Linked DNA regions of Homo sapiens. The protein of the gene in region 1 interacts with the protein of each later gene in a biochemical or structural test. Each region holds a gene or a part of one and is shown in the gene's direction. Other genes may lie near its edges.

The links. Proteins that work in one complex are often made in the same cells at the same time.
Region 2: the proteins of NFKBIE (region 1) and REL form a complex in vitro, tested with the Homo sapiens proteins (2 studies listed by BioGRID).

Annotation. Positions count from the first base shown.
Region 1 is NC_000006.12:44,263,468-44,267,215, reverse strand, and holds the start of NFKBIE (NF-kappa-B inhibitor epsilon), read left to right. Parts: upstream 1-1,664; 5' UTR 1,665-1,869; coding exon 1,870-2,234; intron 2,235-3,748. UniProt on the Homo sapiens protein: Sequesters NF-kappa-B transcription factor complexes in the cytoplasm, thereby inhibiting their activity. Sequestered complexes include NFKB1-RELA (p50-p65) and NFKB1-REL (p50-c-Rel) complexes.
Region 2 is NC_000002.12:60,884,438-60,888,185, forward strand, and holds part of REL (proto-oncogene c-Rel), read left to right. Parts: intron 1-3,748. UniProt on the Homo sapiens protein: Proto-oncogene that may play a role in differentiation and lymphopoiesis.

The DNA of each region.
Region 1 (3,748 bases):
TTCCCATTCTCAGTTCAAATGGAAGCTTCCTTGCCTCTCACCCCACTGAGTAGCTGGCCCCACTGTGTGCCCCCACAACACCCTGTTCTCACTTCTGTCTTATCCCAACCACTCTGAGCTGTAATTGCCAAGGAGCTTTTTTAGGACCATGGGATTTTTTTGTTGGTCATGGGGGGTGGTTATTGGTTATTACTGTGATAGTCAGTTTTGCTTCCAGTAGAAAGAACAACGTCAGACATTACAGGAGACCTTCCATACATGTTTGTCAAGTAGGTGAATGATGGATGAATAAAATGAGGTTGCAGGGGAAGGGCTGTGGGAAAGCTGGCCTCCCCCCTGCAAAACGTTGCTGTCTACACTCATCCACCTTCCTTTCTCCAATGCTGGAGATGGAAAAGCTACATGTTCCCTTGCGGATAACCCTCTAAGGGCATTGCTGGCGTTAGGCTGATAGCACTTGGAATAGTGGGGAGGAATGAGGGAATAAATCATGGAGCATGGGCTTAGGGCTCACTTGTAGTAGGGTGCTCCCACGGCCTTCCTAGGCCCAGGGACAGTGAAAGAGGAAAGATGTTTTGGGACTAAGATTGGGGCTGTGTTGGGGACCTGAGCAGAGTGCAACCCAGCATGTCTGGGGCCTCCCCAACCTGACCCCACTTCCTTGACTGCTGGGGTTGACCAGAAACTGTAACTACCCAAGGCCAGGGTTTCACCCTTTGAGGAAGAAGAAACTCCACAACCACTTTACTTTTTAGACAACAGTTTCCCTGAGAAGACGCTCTTTCCAAAAAAACATTTTCATGCCCAATTCCATGTGATGTGGGACGTTGACACAGGAGACTGTCTTCCAGGACCCAGGAGAACTGCTCCTTTAAAGATAATGGGAGTCCCCTTTCCCTACCCGTACCCCTGGGCACTGATAGGGAAAGATGAGAAAGCAAGAGAAATTGAGATAAATGGGCAGGGGATAGGAAGCAGTGCTTCCCCATCCCATCGCCTACATGCCCTCCCCCAAAGATGCCAGCTTGTACGGACAATTAATAGATATTTCTTTTAAAACAAATGAATGATCCGGGACCGGTGGCTCACAGCCTGTAATCCCAGCACTTTGGTAGTCCGAGGCAGGCAGATCGCTTGAACCCAGGAGTTCGAGACCAGCCTGGGCAACGTAGCGAGACCCCCGTCTCTACTTGTAGTCCCAGCTACTCGAAAGGCTGAGGCAGGAGAATCGCTTGAACCCAGGAGGCGGAGGTTGCAGTGAGCAGAGATCAACCACTGCACTCCAGCCTGGGCAACAGAGCAAGACTTCGTCTCAAAAAAATAAAAAATAAAAATAAAACAAATGAATTAAGAAATAGAAGTGAAAGAAGGAAACAGTACATGCGTGGAACTAATGAATGGAGTGAAGGAGGAAGGGGGAAAGAGTGAATGAATGAATGAATGAATGAGTGAATGAATCAACGAAGGAGTGAGTCAAGGCCCGGGAACCACAGACTCCAAGCCTACGCAGAGCCCGGGAAGGGGGATTCCGGAGGGGCGGGGCCTCTTTCCGGAAGCGCCCGCCGGGGGCGGGGAGGGGGCGGGGCCATCCGCGTGAGGCGACCCTGTTGGTCCGGAGGGGCGGGGCGAGGAGGAGGACCCGCTTGGGCGGTTCGGCTGCCCACAGTAACCGCTGGGTGGACCTGGCCAGCGCTCCGAACCTTGTCCTCGCTGCGCGCCGGCCCCTCGGAGCCCCACAGCCCGGGAAGGAGGCCGCCGCGGGCCGGGCGCCCGCTCTGCCAAGCGGACCCGCAACCCGGAAAGGCGGCGCGGCGGAGCCTGGAGCCGGATCCTGCTCAGACCGGGCCCCGGCCGGCCAGAGCCGCGGGCATGTCGGAGGCGCGGAAGGGGCCGGACGAGGCGGAGGAGAGCCAGTACGACTCTGGCATTGAGTCTCTGCGCTCTCTGCGCTCCCTACCCGAGTCCACCTCGGCTCCAGCCTCCGGGCCCTCGGACGGCAGCCCCCAGCCCTGCACCCATCCTCCGGGACCCGTCAAGGAACCACAGGAGAAGGAAGACGCGGATGGGGAGCGGGCTGATTCCACCTATGGCTCCTCCTCGCTCACCTACACCCTGTCCTTGCTGGGGGGCCCCGAGGCTGAGGACCCGGCCCCACGCCTGCCACTCCCCCACGTGGGGGCGCTGAGCCCTCAGCAGCTGGAAGCACTCACTTACATCTCCGAGGACGGAGACACGTGAGTATGGGGGCTAGGCTGAATCGGGATGCTAACTCTGGGCCTGCCCAAGAGCCGCAACAGGTCGGGCACCCCCACTCCCCCGTGAAGATCCTTCAAGTCCCCATTCGCTCTTCCAAACTCCAGACTTAACTCTCAGCCCACTTTTGAGGTCCAGCTAGGCCATGGAATCATCTCTGTCCTCCCATTTCGGGGTGGGCAGAGCTGGCAGGACCCTTAACCCAGCCAGCATCTTGGAAATCTACCAATAATCCACCCTTAGGAAGAGAAAATTCCCCTGACCAAGTCCAGTTTTTTTGTTTCTTCTTGCTGGGGAAGGGGACATCCTTATTTGCTCAATATCTGGGATTCCCAGTTCCTGACCTCAGAATGCTCTGTCTCAAGGAACAACAGGTGCCAGTTACAGGTTGCCAGTCGGGGCCAGGAAGCTAGGCATGGGGGGTGCCACCAGGGTGTAGGTTTGGGACTGGTCCTCAGGAGGATGGGGTGAGCCAGGCTGGGGCACTCTTGCCCCAGCAGACAGACAGGCGGCTGGCTGCCCCAGCTTACTTCCTCCTCTGCTAAGAAAGGGGAAGTGAGGGCTAGAGTCAGCGTCCCTGACATCCTCTACCTCCAGAGCCCCCAGTCCCACTAACTGTCGTGTCTCACTCCCTCACTTAACCCTTCCTCCTCCAGACCCAGATGGAGTTTGGTGGGAGTGGGCCAGAGGGCAGTTGAAGTAAAAGGCAGTTGTGTGGGATGGGTTGGCCAGTTGAGGATTTAGCCCCCCAGGAAGAAGAAAACATTGACAGAGGAGGGAAAGGTTGGGAACTGGGGATGAGAAATAGAGTTGGGGAGGGCTGGAATCCCTGGTCAAGGGTGCTCATATAAATAGGAGTAGGGGAGGCAGGAGGTGGCTGTCCTAACCTGCTTTTTGGAGATGCAGGGTCCTAATCCTGGGTGGCCATTGATAAAGACAGCTGGTGGACCCAGTGGGTGGGAGAGGAGTGACCCAGTCCTTTCTGTACTCTGCCTGGATCACCAGCCCTCAGGCCCAGAACCCCAAGGTTTTGGGGGCTGCACGCAAGATACCTCTGATGACCTTTGATCCAAGGAGAGGGGACTTTTGACATTGCCGTCTTTTGTTAGCCTCTCAGCCCCAGCCTTTTCCATCTCTAGTTAGAAGCAGGTGTTGTGTCCAGATTGGGTGTGTGTGTGGAGGGGAGAAATGTCCGGGCTCCCCAGCGAGTCCCCAGAGAGCAGGGGGCACTTTCCTCCCTCTGTTGGAGGTGTCTGGGCTGTGGGAGGTATGGAAGTGGGAAGAGGAAGTGGGAGGAGGGGATACTGGGGGAGAGAGGGAGGTGGCTGCAAGAATGTGACCCAGAGAGCAGGCCCTGGCCTAGGGGATTTCCAGAGCAGTTCCTCCCTCCCTCCGTCACTCTCCTGGGCCTCTCCTGCTGCCTGCTGCTAAAGCCTGCCACCCTCCTGCCCAAGCAGCCCCCTCCCCAGCCCAGACGGGCCTTTTAGCCAATCTA
Region 2 (3,748 bases), on another chromosome or scaffold:
TTGCTTTTTAAAAAAATTACACCTTGATCACAGTCTTTTGACATAATTAATAATAGATATAGTGAAGAAAAATGTTCCCAAACCCATCTAAGGTATGCATAGTAGGCAGTTGTTGCTTTTGTATATTTATTCTATTTAATATAAGTAAAATTAGATATTTTATGTCTGAATTTAAACCTTCTCATTGTTCCAGTAAAAAGAGCAAAATGTCTTTGTGTGGCATATAGCTCTGTTAACTAATAATTAGTGCTGTCTTTGGTAAAATGTTTTAAAATTTAGATAATTTATTTTTCTTCACATTTTTCTTAGTATGGTTCTTCTGTGTCACACAATAGGAAGGAAGTACAGAAATGAATTGTTTTTGTAAACCTCACTTCTTACCAACTATTTGTAGTGTGAATTTCAAGAGAATTGTTGTTTTTCTCGATTAAAGGGGAGAAATGGAAGTAAGTGTGAGGCAACTTAATCTTTAATAACAGAGCTGGAAGTTAGGAATGGATAGCTACAGTAAATGACTTCTTTTTTTAAGTAAAATGCCACACATGAGCATGAATGTTTCAGAAATGCAACACATGAAAAAATAGAAATAACAATGGAGTTAAATAATTAAGGTGACGTATGATAGGCACAGATAAAGGGAATGAGTTAATGTAATGACTAGGGAGGAGCCAGACAATGAATCATAATTAGGAACATCTAGGTTATGCATAGTATCTTTCTCAAATACAATTTAAGGGACTCAGAATTTCATTTTGTTCCAACTTTCTCTCATATGGGTTCTCTGAAAATGATTTTGTTTGTAGGCACATGACCCAAATATTGCATGGGATAAAATTGTTTTTCTGAAATTCATATTTATCTGGGCCTCCTCTGTTTTTATTTTTAAAACAGAGGTGATTTGGTCTTGCCATTTGTTTTTAACTTTAATACCTGTATAATCTAGGACAGCTTTTAAAATTTATTTATTTTACCCTGGCACGTGCAAGAGTTTTTTCAAGACTTACCTTTTTTCCCCCTTGGTAACAGAATCCCTATTGCCAGAATCTTTTACAGTTTTTACCTTGTAGTGCATAAATCAGTTGAATACTCATCTGAAAATTTCCTTTCTTTGATTCTTAAGGCCCAGTTGAAAGTCAGCCTGATGTATTGGAGTAATAAAGTCAGCCTGATATATTGGCATAGCCTTTGGCTGATGAGAGACCTAGTTTGAGGAAAAAAATAATAGATCTTATTTTCTTTTTCTCCAAATTGAGTAGAGGTGATATTTGGAAAAATATATATTGTTAGCTCCATTGGCTCCTTTAGGTCTCAGGCAAAGTCTGTCACCGAGGACCTTTATGAGAGACATGCAGTCTAGTCAGCTATTCTCAACTGTGGTGTTGACACACTGGTGTGACAATCATTTGTGTGATGTGTTGCAAGAGTTAAAATATTTGTGTTGTAAATTATTTACTTTTTAAATAAATGAAAGCATTTGAAGGTTATCTCTATATTGTCATTTTTTCTTGCTTGCATTTGAATAAGGTTCTTTTTTAAGTGGGAGATAAACACAAGTTCAAGTTACAAGTAGCCAGAATTGCTTTGCCTAATTTACTCACGTCCCAGTCCATATTTGTACCTGAATTTTTAGATTACTTCTCTCAATATGTGCATTGTTGCTTCCACTTCATGTTTTAAGACAATTATTCTTAATCAGGAGTGTGTTAGAATTTCTTGGAAGGCTTTTTCAGCAACGTGTATCTGGGCTTTAAAAACTATGAAGATTTCTTTATCTTCTAAACATCTCAAGTGGGGTAAGGACATGTATGTTTTGAAAAAACTACCTAGGTGATTCTGATGTACATCCCCAGTATGAACTCTGTTCTAGGGATTTCTTTGGATCTAAATACTCATTTGGCTATACCAGGATGCATTATCTTCTTAAATTAAGTTGCATTTATTTTAGATTGCAGATTATGTGCTGTATCAGTTATTACCTCCAGTTGCTTTTATGCTTGTTTTTTAAATTTGGCACTGCCATATTAGCATACCATTCATAATTCATTTTTATTATAACTTCATATAATTTTCAACTTTAGTTTTATCATGTGTAAGATGGGATAATAATTTCTATTATTTTTCAAATGGAGATTAAAGTTAAGAGGATCAAATGAGAAATGTATATAAAGGGGTCTTAAAATAATGTTATAATTACAATAATTAGCTTTTTTTTCTGTATACTTGATGCTGGTTGCTAATTCTAGCAATAAAGTGTTTGTTAATAATGTGTCTATTTCCGATAATTTATGATCCATTTAAACATTTCAATGTAATTTTTTTATTTTAAAAGCTCATGCTTTATTAGATAGGCACTATGTTTTAAAATAGCACTCTTTCTTGCCTAAGCGCAAATAAAAACATAGATATATCTTACAAACATTTTGGCTGTATTTTAGAAGTTATTCTGATGTATATTAGCCTTTTAAAATACTATTCAGAATATAGGGGTCAGTCCCAGCTTTGCATAGTGTTGCTTAAAGAAAAATACAGTAATCAATTTGTTTAGAGTCAATTTTGGAGACGTTTTGGTGCTTTTCAAAACTGTGGCGATTTGAGGTTATCTTAGTTAAGAGTACTTATTTTCCCTACAATTTCCTGATTTATGTTTTACCCTCTTGCACTCCATAGATGACTACATTTCAACACATTTTATATTCAGGAAGAATGGCATTGTGCAAAGCACAGTACTGAGGAAGGAGATAACTGGTGCATTGTACTGATGCATTATATAAATGATTTATAGCTGGGAAGTTTTTTAAAAATCATAAACACAGATAAATCAAAATAGGAATGAGTATGAGGAAATACTGAGGTGTAGCAATCCTGGTACCTATAAAGCACTATTTTTTTTTCCTTAGTAGTGGAATCTAATTAAAAAATCTGACTAATCACTTATATGATTATTTAACGTTTGAATAACTTGTATAAACAAAAGACCTTAAGATTTTTTAGTCATTCATTCAATAGATGTTTAATGAATATCTCTGTACAAGGCACTGATGAGTTAAACACAATTTCTGCCTTCAAGTAGCTTGAAGAAATAAAACAAGTAGCTTTATCTCAAGAAGAAATAAGACGGTAAGTTTTCCCTAAATTACAGTTATTTGGAATAATTGCTATACACAGAATACTATGGTAGTTTAAAGGAGGGGAGATTATTTCCAGCTGGGGGAATGTAGAGTATTACAGTATACTGTGTTACTTGGTTGTAATACTCTACATTCCCCCAGCTTGTTAATTTTTACCAATTAAGAGCTTCTGCAGTAGGAAAAATAAATTCCAAGGACTTTAAATACTCAATATTATATGATAACTGATATTTATGTAATTTTTACTATTTAAAAATATTTAATCTTTTCAACAACTACTTTTCTGTTCTTTTTGTAAACAATCTAAAGAAGTGTCATGTAACCAATGAAGTTTTGGGTTTTTTTGTTGTTGTTTTTGTGTTTTGTTTGTTTTTTTTTTTGAGACGGAGTCTCACTCTGTCACCCAGGCTAGAGTGCAGTGGTACAATCTTGGCTCACTGCAGCCTCCACCTCCTGGGTTCAAGCAATTCTCTTGCCTCAGTCTCCCAAGTAGCTGGGATTACAGGTGCCTGCCACCACATCCCGCTAATTTTTTGTATTTTTAGTAGAGATGGGGTTTCACCATGTTTTCCAGGCTGGTCTGGAACTCCTGACCTCAAGTGATCCACCCACTTTGGCCT